Linked DNA regions of Homo sapiens. The gene in region 3 interacts genetically with the main gene of each other region. Each region holds a gene or a part of one and is shown on either strand. Other genes may lie near its edges. The genes, in order: CHEK1, RRM2 and PARP1.

Region 1 (3,653 bases), on a different chromosome or scaffold from region 3:
TGTTTTCTTTCCCATACCCTCATGTCCTTTGATCTGGACATGGTACAGGTGTCCTCCTTATTCTTCATTGTCACTTTCTCCCATCTTCCTTTATGTCTCTCCCCTCTAACTTTTGAACCCCAAATTAAAATTTCTGCCGTACTATCACAGTCTGCAAAATGACTCTTGATGTTATTTTCGTCATGATTCTTGGTGATTTAAATATTTATTTGGATCATCCTCCTGATATCCTGACTTCACTGTTTCTTGACCCTCTCTCCTATAGTGATGTTGTCTTTGAACACGCTGCACTGATCACCAGTATAATTTTTTCTGACTTCCTCCCTTAATATTCTAACTTAAACAGTCCTTTGTATCTGGACTTGCAATTAATTAATTCTATCTCTTCAGTCTCTTACCTGCTCCCTCTCTAGGTCCTTGATTTCATCTTTACCTATCTTAAATCTTTAGGTTAGTCATTATAAATGACTGCTTTGCGTTCATCATCTTCAATTTCCTTGTCCCCTTCTCTCTTCATCATACTTAGTGGGTAAAACCCAGTAAGTAGTTTCTGGGTTTAATCTAGTAGTTTTCTACGTACTGCACACTTGTACCTGCACAACAGATTGCAGCAGGAGAAAAATACCCAAAAATGTTCACTTTAAATTCAGGATTACTAATCTCAAGTGGGCCCTTAATGCTTCCTGGCATTTGGCCTTCGTTTCCCCACATCTTTCTCTGTCCTGTTCTCCTAAATCACGTTTTTATAATACTTTTCTCTTTTTTTTTTTTTTTTTTTTGAGACAGGGTCTAGGCTGGAGTGCAGTGGCGCCATCTCCACTCACTTCAACCTCTGCCTCTCAGGTTCAAGCGATTCGATTCTCGTGCCTTAGCCACCCGAGTAGCTGGGATTACAGGTGTGAACCACCACACCTGGCTAATTTTTATATTTTTAGTAGAGGTTTTGCCATGCTGGCCAGGCTGGTCTCAAACTCCTAGCCTCAAGTGATCCCCCTGCCTCAGCCTCCCAAAGTGCTGGGTTTATAGGTGTGAGCTACTGTGTCTGGTCCCTTAACTTTTATTATCTTCTCTCCATCCTCACTCTCAGTTGTTCACTTTGCTTCCTGTGTCACTGGGAAATGAAAGCCACAAGAGAACTTAGGCAAGCTCCCACCACCATCTCCTCCATACTAACTGCCTCTATGCTCATGTATTCTCTTTCATCCTGTATTGCTGTAGATAAATTGCTCTGGATGTAAGCCAGGTCTTTCTCTTACCCACTCAATGACTTTGTCTAGCAATTTTTCTCCCTCTCCTACATTATTAATTTTTCCTTCTCTACCGGATCTTTCTCATCAGCATATCTACATGCTTTTTCTCCCATTTTAAAATCAAATCATAATGGTAATAAAATTTCTCTTAACTCCACTTTTCCCTACCATTCCATCTTCTTCACAATTGAATATTCCTAAAATTGCTTCTCATCTCTAACACCTCAAAACTAGTTTTCAATTTCATCTATTTTGTTGCCAAGAGTCACAGTGATTTTTGGAACGTGTTGCCAAGTTCAATGTAATAGTCCACTGTGGTCAACCGAGGTCTGAAAAGATTAAATGGAAAGTACCAGAAGTAAACAATTCATCAATTCATGGGTTTTGGCCGGGCGCGGTGGCTCACGCCTGTAATCCCAGCACTTTGGGAGGCCAAGGCGGGCGGATCACGAGGTCAGGAGATCGAGACCATCCTGGCTAACACGGTGTCACCCCGTCTCTACTAAAAATACAAAAAATTAGCCGGGCGAGGTGGCGGTCGCCTGTAGTCCCAGCTACTCGGGAGGCTGAGGCAAGAGAATGGCGTGAACCCCGGGGGGCGGAGCTTGCAGTGAGCCGAGATCGCACCACTGCACTCCAGCCTGGGCAACAGCGAGACTCCGTCTCAAAAAAAAAAAAAAAGAAATTCATGGGTTTTATTTATTTATTTAATTCGAGACGGGATCTCGCTCTGTCGCCCAGACTGGAGTGCAGTGGCGTGGTCTCCACTTACTGAAACCTCTACCTCCTGAGCTTAAATGATCCTCCCATCTCAGCTTCCCGAGTAGCTGGGACTACAGGTGTGAGCCACTATGCCCGGCTAATTTTTGTATTTTTGGTAGAGATGAGGTTTCGCCATGTTGCCTATGCTTTTCTACCAAAAATACAAAAATTAGCCAGGTGTGGTGGTTCACGCCTGTAATCCCAGCTGTTCTCAAACTGCTGGGCTTAAGCAATCCACCCACCCCGGCCTCCCAAAGTACTGGGATTATAGGCATGAGCCACAATGCCCTGCCATAGGTTTTAAATTGTGTGCTGTTCTGAGTAGCATAATAAAATCTTGTGCTGTCCTACTTCATCTCACTTGGGATGTGAATCACTCCTTTTTCCAGTGTATTCACGTTCCATGTGCTACCTGCTTGTAACTCCCTTAGTAGCTGTTTTGGTTATTAGATCGAAAGAACATATATAGGGTTTGGTACCATTTGTACTTTCAGGCATCCACTTGAACATATCCCTCTGTGGATAAGGGGGGTACTACTGTAGTCAGTTCTCAGACCTCTTGTTTTATCTCATCAATATTTTATACAGTTGATCATGCCCTCCTCCTTTAAACACTTTCTTCATTTGGCTTCCAGGCGTTACACTCTTCTGATTTTCGTCCTTCTCACTGGTCGCTCTTTTCAGTCTCTTGATGGTTTTTTTTCATCTGCTCAGCCTCCTACTATTGGAGTTCTCCAGGGCTGAATCTATGGATCTCCTTTGTTTTCTTCTCCACACTCACTCCATTAGTGATATTACTTGGTTTCATGGCTCTAAATAAAACTATATGTTGATAGTCACATTTATATCAACCTAGACCTTTCCTCTGAATTCCAAACTTACATGTCTTAACTGCCTTCTGAAATTTCACTTGAATGTTAAGAGGCATCTCACACTTGATGAATTCCAAACTGAGTTACTGATCTTTTCCTTTCAAACCCATTCCTTTTCAAAGTCTTTCCCATGTTGGTTAATGGCAACTGCATTATTCTTATTATGCAGATCAGAAACTTTGGAATCATCCTTCATTTTTCTCATTCTCTTTTACTTCACATCCAGTACACCAGCTAATTCTGTTAACCTCTATCTTTAAAAAAATCTTAGAATCTGATTACCTTTTTTTTTTTTACCTCTACTGTTACCCTATCATTCCAAATTACCATGATATCTTTCCAAAATGTTCTGATTTAAAAGTGAATTAGAATATATCACTATTCTACCCAAATCCTCCAATGCTTTAGTTCTCACGTGTAGTGTAAGCTAAAATCAGTTCATGACCTGTGAGTTCTTACACAATTTTGTTCCTTACATTACCTCTCCAACCTCAGTTCTGCTTTGCTCCCCCTTGGTCATATTGTTGTTCTTCTTATTGTTCTCCAAGTGCTCTAGGCACACTTCTACCTCACTGTTTTTGTAGTGACTGTTCCTATGTCTGAAAATGCTTTTTCCCATGGGACTTATTTGCATGTCTTATTCTCTTACTTTCTTTGGATATTGACTTCAGTGTCATCTTTCCAATAAGCCTTTCCTGGCCATGCTATTTAAAATGGTATCCTCTTCCCTCTAACACATTTCTTAAATTTTTAAAATTTTTACTCTCTT
Region 2 (3,241 bases), on a different chromosome or scaffold from region 3:
GACATCAGCAGAGAAGTCAGTAGTTGAAGTCATCTTCCCTTTGAGAGTTCAAGTGCTCTCAGTATGGCTGAGCATGTTGGATAAGGAGAATGCAGAAAAGGACAAAGTAATTTCATATTCCATGTTAATGACAGAAGTCTTCTGGCTTTAGTGATCTTGAACTTTTTTTTCTAGGGTTTACACTGTGATTTTGCTTGCCTGATGTTCAAACACCTGGTACACAAACCATCGGAGGAGAGAGTAAGAGAAATAATTATCAATGCTGTTCGGATAGAACAGGTAAAGTGGGTGATGAAATGGGTCACTCAAGCTTGCTAGAAAATGCCTGTGCTTTAGTTGTATTCAGAAGCTGTATTTTGGTTCCTAGGAGTTCCTCACTGAGGCCTTGCCTGTGAAGCTCATTGGGATGAATTGCACTCTAATGAAGCAATACATTGAGTTTGTGGCAGACAGACTTATGCTGGAACTGGGTTTTAGCAAGGTAAAGTATTGTTTACATAGCCTTTTGCTTGTTTTGAAGCTGGTGCTCTGTATTTATATCTTGATGTGAACCTTTTCAGGTTTTCAGAGTAGAGAACCCATTTGACTTTATGGAGAATATTTCACTGGAAGGAAAGACTAACTTCTTTGAGAAGAGAGTAGGCGAGTATCAGAGGATGGGAGTGATGTCAAGTCCAACAGAGAATTCTTTTACCTTGGATGCTGACTTCTAAATGAACTGAAGATGTGCCCTTACTTGGCTGATTTTTTTTTTCCATCTCATAAGAAAAATCAGCTGAAGTGTTACCAACTAGCCACACCATGAATTGTCCGTAATGTTCATTAACAGCATCTTTAAAACTGTGTAGCTACCTCACAACCAGTCCTGTCTGTTTATAGTGCTGGTAGTATCACCTTTTGCCAGAAGGCCTGGCTGGCTGTGACTTACCATAGCAGTGACAATGGCAGTCTTGGCTTTAAAGTGAGGGGTGACCCTTTAGTGAGCTTAGCACAGCGGGATTAAACAGTCCTTTAACCAGCACAGCCAGTTAAAAGATGCAGCCTCACTGCTTCAACGCAGATTTTAATGTTTACTTAAATATAAACCTGGCACTTTACAAACAAATAAACATTGTTTGTACTCACAAGGCGATAATAGCTTGATTTATTTGGTTTCTACACCAAATACATTCTCCTGACCACTAATGGGAGCCAATTCACAATTCACTAAGTGACTAAAGTAAGTTAAACTTGTGTAGACTAAGCATGTAATTTTTAAGTTTTATTTTAATGAATTAAAATATTTGTTAACCAACTTTAAAGTCAGTCCTGTGTATACCTAGATATTAGTCAGTTGGTGCCAGATAGAAGACAGGTTGTGTTTTTATCCTGTGGCTTGTGTAGTGTCCTGGGATTCTCTGCCCCCTCTGAGTAGAGTGTTGTGGGATAAAGGAATCTCTCAGGGCAAGGAGCTTCTTAAGTTAAATCACTAGAAATTTAGGGGTGATCTGGGCCTTCATATGTGTGAGAAGCCGTTTCATTTTATTTCTCACTGTATTTTCCTCAACGTCTGGTTGATGAGAAAAAATTCTTGAAGAGTTTTCATATGTGGGAGCTAAGGTAGTATTGTAAAATTTCAAGTCATCCTTAAACAAAATGATCCACCTAAGATCTTGCCCCTGTTAAGTGGTGAAATCAACTAGAGGTGGTTCCTACAAGTTGTTCATTCTAGTTTTGTTTGGTGTAAGTAGGTTGTGTGAGTTAATTCATTTATATTTACTATGTCTGTTAAATCAGAAATTTTTTATTATCTATGTTCTTCTAGATTTTACCTGTAGTTCATACTTCAGTCACCCAGTGTCTTATTCTGGCATTGTCTAAATCTGAGCATTGTCTAGGGGGATCTTAAACTTTAGTAGGAAACCATGAGCTGTTAATACAGTTTCCATTCAAATATTAATTTCAGAATGAAACATAATTTTTTTTTTTTTTTTTGAGATGGAGTCTCGCTCTGTTGCCCAGGCTGGAGTGCAGTGGCGCGATTTTGGCTCACTGTAACCTCCATCTCCTGGGTTCAAGCAATTCTCCTGTCTCAGCCTCCCTAGTAGCTGGGACTGCAGGTATGTGCTACCACACCTGGCTAATTTTTGTATTTTTAGTAGAGATGGAGTTTCACCATATTGGTCAGGCTGGTCTTGAACTCCTGACCTCAGGTGATCCACCCACCTCGGCCTCCCAAAGTGCTGGGATTGCAGGCGTGATAAACAAATATTCTTAATAGGGCTACTTTGAATTAATCTGCCTTTATGTTTGGGAGAAGAAAGCTGAGACATTGCATGAAAGATGATGAGAGATAAATGTTGATCTTTTGGCCCCATTTGTTAATTGTATTCAGTATTTGAACGTCGTCCTGTTTATTGTTAGTTTTCTTCATCATTTATTGTATAGACAATTTTTAAATCTCTGTAATATGATACATTTTCCTATCTTTTAAGTTATTGTTACCTAAAGTTAATCCAGATTATATGGTCCTTATATGTGTACAACATTAAAATGAAAGGCTTTGTCTTGCATTGTGAGGTACAGGCGGAAGTTGGAATCAGGTTTTAGGATTCTGTCTCTCATTAGCTGAATAATGTGAGGATTAACTTCTGCCAGCTCAGACCATTTCCTAATCAGTTGAAAGGGAAACAAGTATTTCAGTCTCAAAATTGAATAATGCACAAGTCTTAAGTGATTAAAATAAAACTGTTCTTATGTCAGTTTCTTGATTGGTAAAATTTGCATTTTAATTCAGGAAGAGAAATATTTTTTGGCCAGGCATGGCTGTAATCCCAGCACTTTGGGAGACCAAGGTAGGCAGATCACCTGAGCTCAGGAGTTCGAGATCAGCCTGGCCAACATGGTGACACCCCATCTCTACTAAAAATACAAAAATTAGCCTGGCATGGTGGCACACGCCTGTAATCCCAGCTACTCGTGAGGCTGAGGCAGGAGAATCACTTGAACCCGGGAGGCAGAGGTTGCAGTGAGCTGAGATTGCACCGCTGCACTCCAGCCTGGGCAGCAGAGTGAGACTGTCTGAAAAAAAAAGGTGTTTTTTGTAAAGGCTAACGAATTCATTTGCTTTCCACTGGTTCTGGGCAAGAGACTTGCCTTGTGCCTATTGGCACAAGGTGTATAGGAGACAGGTACACCCGAAAGGTGGTGCCCAAAAATACTAACTGCCATACTGCACGTGGGGTTTGTGAAGCCGGGGCTG
Region 3 (3,653 bases):
CATAATAAACCCACACAGAAACCTGTTTAGCTTTGTTTTACCCTACCTTTTCCAAACATACTTGAACCTTGAACTTCTGTTTTGGCAGATATCTATGCACATCTTACAGAGCAGTGCGAAGTGATGAGAATACAGGTTGAGCAGCTTCCCTTATCCGAGATGCTTGAGACCAGAAACCTTTCAGACCTTAAAATACTTGCTTCATATTTACTGACTGAGCATCTAATCCAAAACTCTGAAATCTGAAATGCTCCAATGAACATTTCCTTTGAGCATCATGTTGTCACTCAAAAAGTGTTGAATTTTGAGGCAATTTGTTTGGGCTTCGGGACTAGGGAGACTCAACCTATAGTAGCTTACCGTCTTTAGTTGAGAACACGCAATGCATGTGAATCTACAGTACAAAGCAGCAACACTGAGAGCAAATACTGGTTTCCCTTCATAAAGAACCACAGCGATGATGATGTTAAGATCCAGTTTTTCAGCGCTGTGTTCGACTCTTCCTCACTTACTCGTCATCACAATCATAAGATACAGAAGCATTGTCCCTGTTGCACAAATTCAGATTCAACTCACTTTTGGTGCTGATGCACAGGGAAGCCTTGTTGGCCGTCCCCGTCAACTTCCCCCCGAGTTTCTCAATCATGGCCTTCACTTCATCCTTGTTCCGGGACAGCTTCCCGAGAGTCAGGATCTTCATGTTGGATAATGGCTTATCTGGGATGAAAGGAGAGAATCATTCAGCAAGGCCAGCTCTGGTGCTGCTCCCCAGTAAGGGGAGGTGGAGGAGCAGGTGAGCCAAGCAGCGAGCTCCTGGGAAAAGCCTATGAAAATACACTCGCGAGAAAACAGGACGGGACAGCAAGCTGCCACCTGAGTACCTACAGATGTCCCTCAGCACAGAAAGGACTGGGCAGGGAGCAAGCCACAAAATGCCACTCCATGGCCAGGCCAGCCTCGCGGCGTGAGCCAGGCAGCTGCGGGTTACCCCAGGTCCGCGCCAAGGTCAGGCTAGGAAGGCTGCATCTGCGGACGAGGGACCAGGAGGCTGGAGTCGGATGGGAAGAGGGGTAAGGTCACATGAACCCCCAATTCCTTCTGTTATTCTCCCAAACAAACTGCAATTCTTATGAATTAACCCCATTTTAAAATGAGACATGTCCATGATAGTCCCTCAAAGCAGTGGCCAGCACAATCACACGGAGCTGAGCTAACTGATTCTAGGAGAAAAGCAGCAGCCTGGTGTGCACTGACCCAGGCCAGAAAGGCCTGGACAGGGGTGTGCCTTCTGTTCACAGCAAACAACACAGTGCAGGTGACACCCGTCCAGAACTGGAGTAGCTGCAAGGAAAAGTCCTTCCTGCCTTCCCTGTGAGGGCAAACAACTAGGAAACACTGACAGTTTAACTGAAACTGCTGAGGTCTCCAGAGAACAAAATTATTGACTCATGCTGAACTGCAAGTCAGGGGAAAGCAGAGGAGGGAACCCTCCATGGAGGGGTCAGAATGCCAGCCCCCAACTGGCCCTTCATGTGGGCACCTGGACCCAGGCTGCCAGCAGCACAGTGGACTCGGGATGACCACCAGCACACACTGCAGTGACCACTGGTCCCCTCTCAGGATATGAAAAGGAAGTCAATAACAGGTTTATGTTCAAGGAAGGAACCCTCATCCTCCACCCACCAAACTGTGACCTTCACCAATAGACTATGCCACATGTCTCTGAGTAAACAAGCAGCGGGTCACTTCTCCTGCCAAAAAAATACGTTGCTCTCACTGTCTTGGTTGGCTTGGGGCATTTCTCACTAGTGCTGATTAGTAACTCCCTCTGCATACAACAGAGACTTGAGCATCACACCAGGGCCCGGATGACTGGTGGGCGCAGGGCAGCCTGGAGAGTGAGGCCTGGGATGCTCCTCTGCAGTGCAGTCAGGCAGGAGACCCTGCGCCCAACTCCAGGTAAGGCTGTCGACCTAGCCTTTCTTAGGAGCCCCTCTCCTAGCCTCCCAGAGTAAGAGCTGCTTGTTCTTCTACAATGTTTATTTTATTTTTAGAGATAGGGTATCACTCCATCGCCCAAGCTGGTGTGCATTAGCGTGATCATAGCTCAGTGCAGCCTTGACCTCCCAGGCTCAAGGGATCCTCCGCCTCAGCCTCCTGAGTATCTAGGGCTAAAGGCACATACTCGGATTAATTTTAAACATTTTTGTAGAGATGGGGTCTCACTACATTGCCCAGGTTGGTCTCAAACTCCTGGCCTCAGCAATTCTTTTGCCTCAGCTTCCTAAAGTGCTGGGATTACAGGTGTGAGTCACTGCTCCCAGCCGATGCTATGTTCTTAACACTCTCCCACCTTGCTGTGGTCAGGGGTGTAACAAGCCAAGAGAAGAGGCCTATCCCCTGCAGGGCAAGGCTTCCCCATGGTGGGGTCAGCAAAGAGAGACCCTTGACGGATACTTTCTTCACCAGCTCCACACCACCAGCAAGTAGTGGGCAAACAATTCCTGCAAAGCAGCTCTAAGACCGGGGTCCCAAATGCTGTACCTGCTGAAGCAGAGGAGTTCACAGCAGCAGGAGCCGAGGCTGTGGAGGGCGGAGGCGTGGCCGCCACGGAGGCGCTGGTTTCTGGGGGGAATATACGGTCCTGTTTTTTAACCTTCAATTTCTTGAGGTAAGAGATTTCTCGGAATTCCTAAAAAATATTAAGTTTTAGTTAAGAAGCCAGCTCTCCCTTGAGGTAACCACCCCATAGACCAAAGAGGATTTGGCTTGTCCAAATCAAATAATCTCTTTTTTTCTTCTTACAATAAAGAGTAACAAAAAATAGAAAAATGTGAGGCTTTAAGGATGAAAGACAGTATTATTGCTGCTACAGTACTTATTTCCGGTACTTTTACATTTATAATAGGGCTAATATTGTGGCTGCTTTAAGAGAAAAATCTTTCCCTAAAAAAAACAAAAACAGAAACCAGTGGCCAATTCGGTCAGGGAACCACCACTGGAACTGCTGTATGACTACAACCTCCCTGGCCTCATTCCTGAGTTGCTCCCTTCGAGAGTTAATAGGCCTCTGTGGGATCACATGCCTACTCCAGAACTCCAAGACCCCGAATACTATATACACACTGGGAGATTATTACCCAAAAGGAAATCACAGTATTTGCTTTCCTTTTTAGAAGAAGGAAAAATGAATGCAGGGAGCCCTATGGTATTCACTATAAATTCTTCCATCAGCACAATTCACTCTTCACTCTGACTGATTTACAAGGGGCCTTGCTCTAAATGGTCACTCAATAAGTATCAAATACATGAAGCTCAGGGAAAGATACTGTGCTCCCAGGTCTTCATCCAATCAAGAAACTGCCCTTTCCAGCTATGCCTGTGTTCAGGATGTCAGTTAGATACAAGAGGTCACAGATTGCTTCCGACACACACAGACCACCTAATATGTGCTACCAACCATAGTCTGGTTAAAAAGACAGTTTCTGCTCTTCAGAAAGTATCTCATTCGTGACTGAGCATCAGCTATAGGAAGGTGAACTTTAACAAAGGAGCTAAGCTATGCCAGAGGTGTGCCAAGGTGATGTGAGACAGGGAATGCTAGCATGCACTTGGAGGCAGTGATCTGCTAAGCCCACTGGGAGCTGAAAACA

What was found.
Region 1: changes in PARP1 (region 3) and CHEK1 together harm fitness more than expected from each alone (negative genetic interaction), as found in Homo sapiens cells (one large-scale study listed by BioGRID).
Region 2: changes in PARP1 (region 3) and RRM2 together harm fitness more than expected from each alone (negative genetic interaction), as found in Homo sapiens cells (one large-scale study listed by BioGRID).

Annotation. Positions count from the first base shown.
Region 1 is NC_000011.10:125,638,624-125,642,276, forward strand, and holds part of CHEK1 (serine/threonine-protein kinase Chk1), read left to right. Parts: intron 1-3,653. UniProt on the Homo sapiens protein: Serine/threonine-protein kinase which is required for checkpoint-mediated cell cycle arrest and activation of DNA repair in response to the presence of DNA damage or unreplicated DNA.
Region 2 is NC_000002.12:10,128,674-10,131,914, forward strand, and holds the end of RRM2 (ribonucleoside-diphosphate reductase subunit M2), read left to right. Parts: intron 1-174; coding exon 175-279; intron 280-367; coding exon 368-481; intron 482-560; coding exon 561-713; 3' UTR 714-2,741; downstream 2,742-3,241. UniProt on the Homo sapiens protein: Provides the precursors necessary for DNA synthesis. Catalyzes the biosynthesis of deoxyribonucleotides from the corresponding ribonucleotides. Inhibits Wnt signaling.
Region 3 is NC_000001.11:226,380,492-226,384,144, forward strand, and holds part of PARP1 (poly [ADP-ribose] polymerase 1), read right to left. Parts: intron 2,693-3,653; coding exon 2,545-2,692; intron 718-2,544; coding exon 577-717; intron 1-576. UniProt on the Homo sapiens protein: Poly-ADP-ribosyltransferase that mediates poly-ADP-ribosylation of proteins and plays a key role in DNA repair.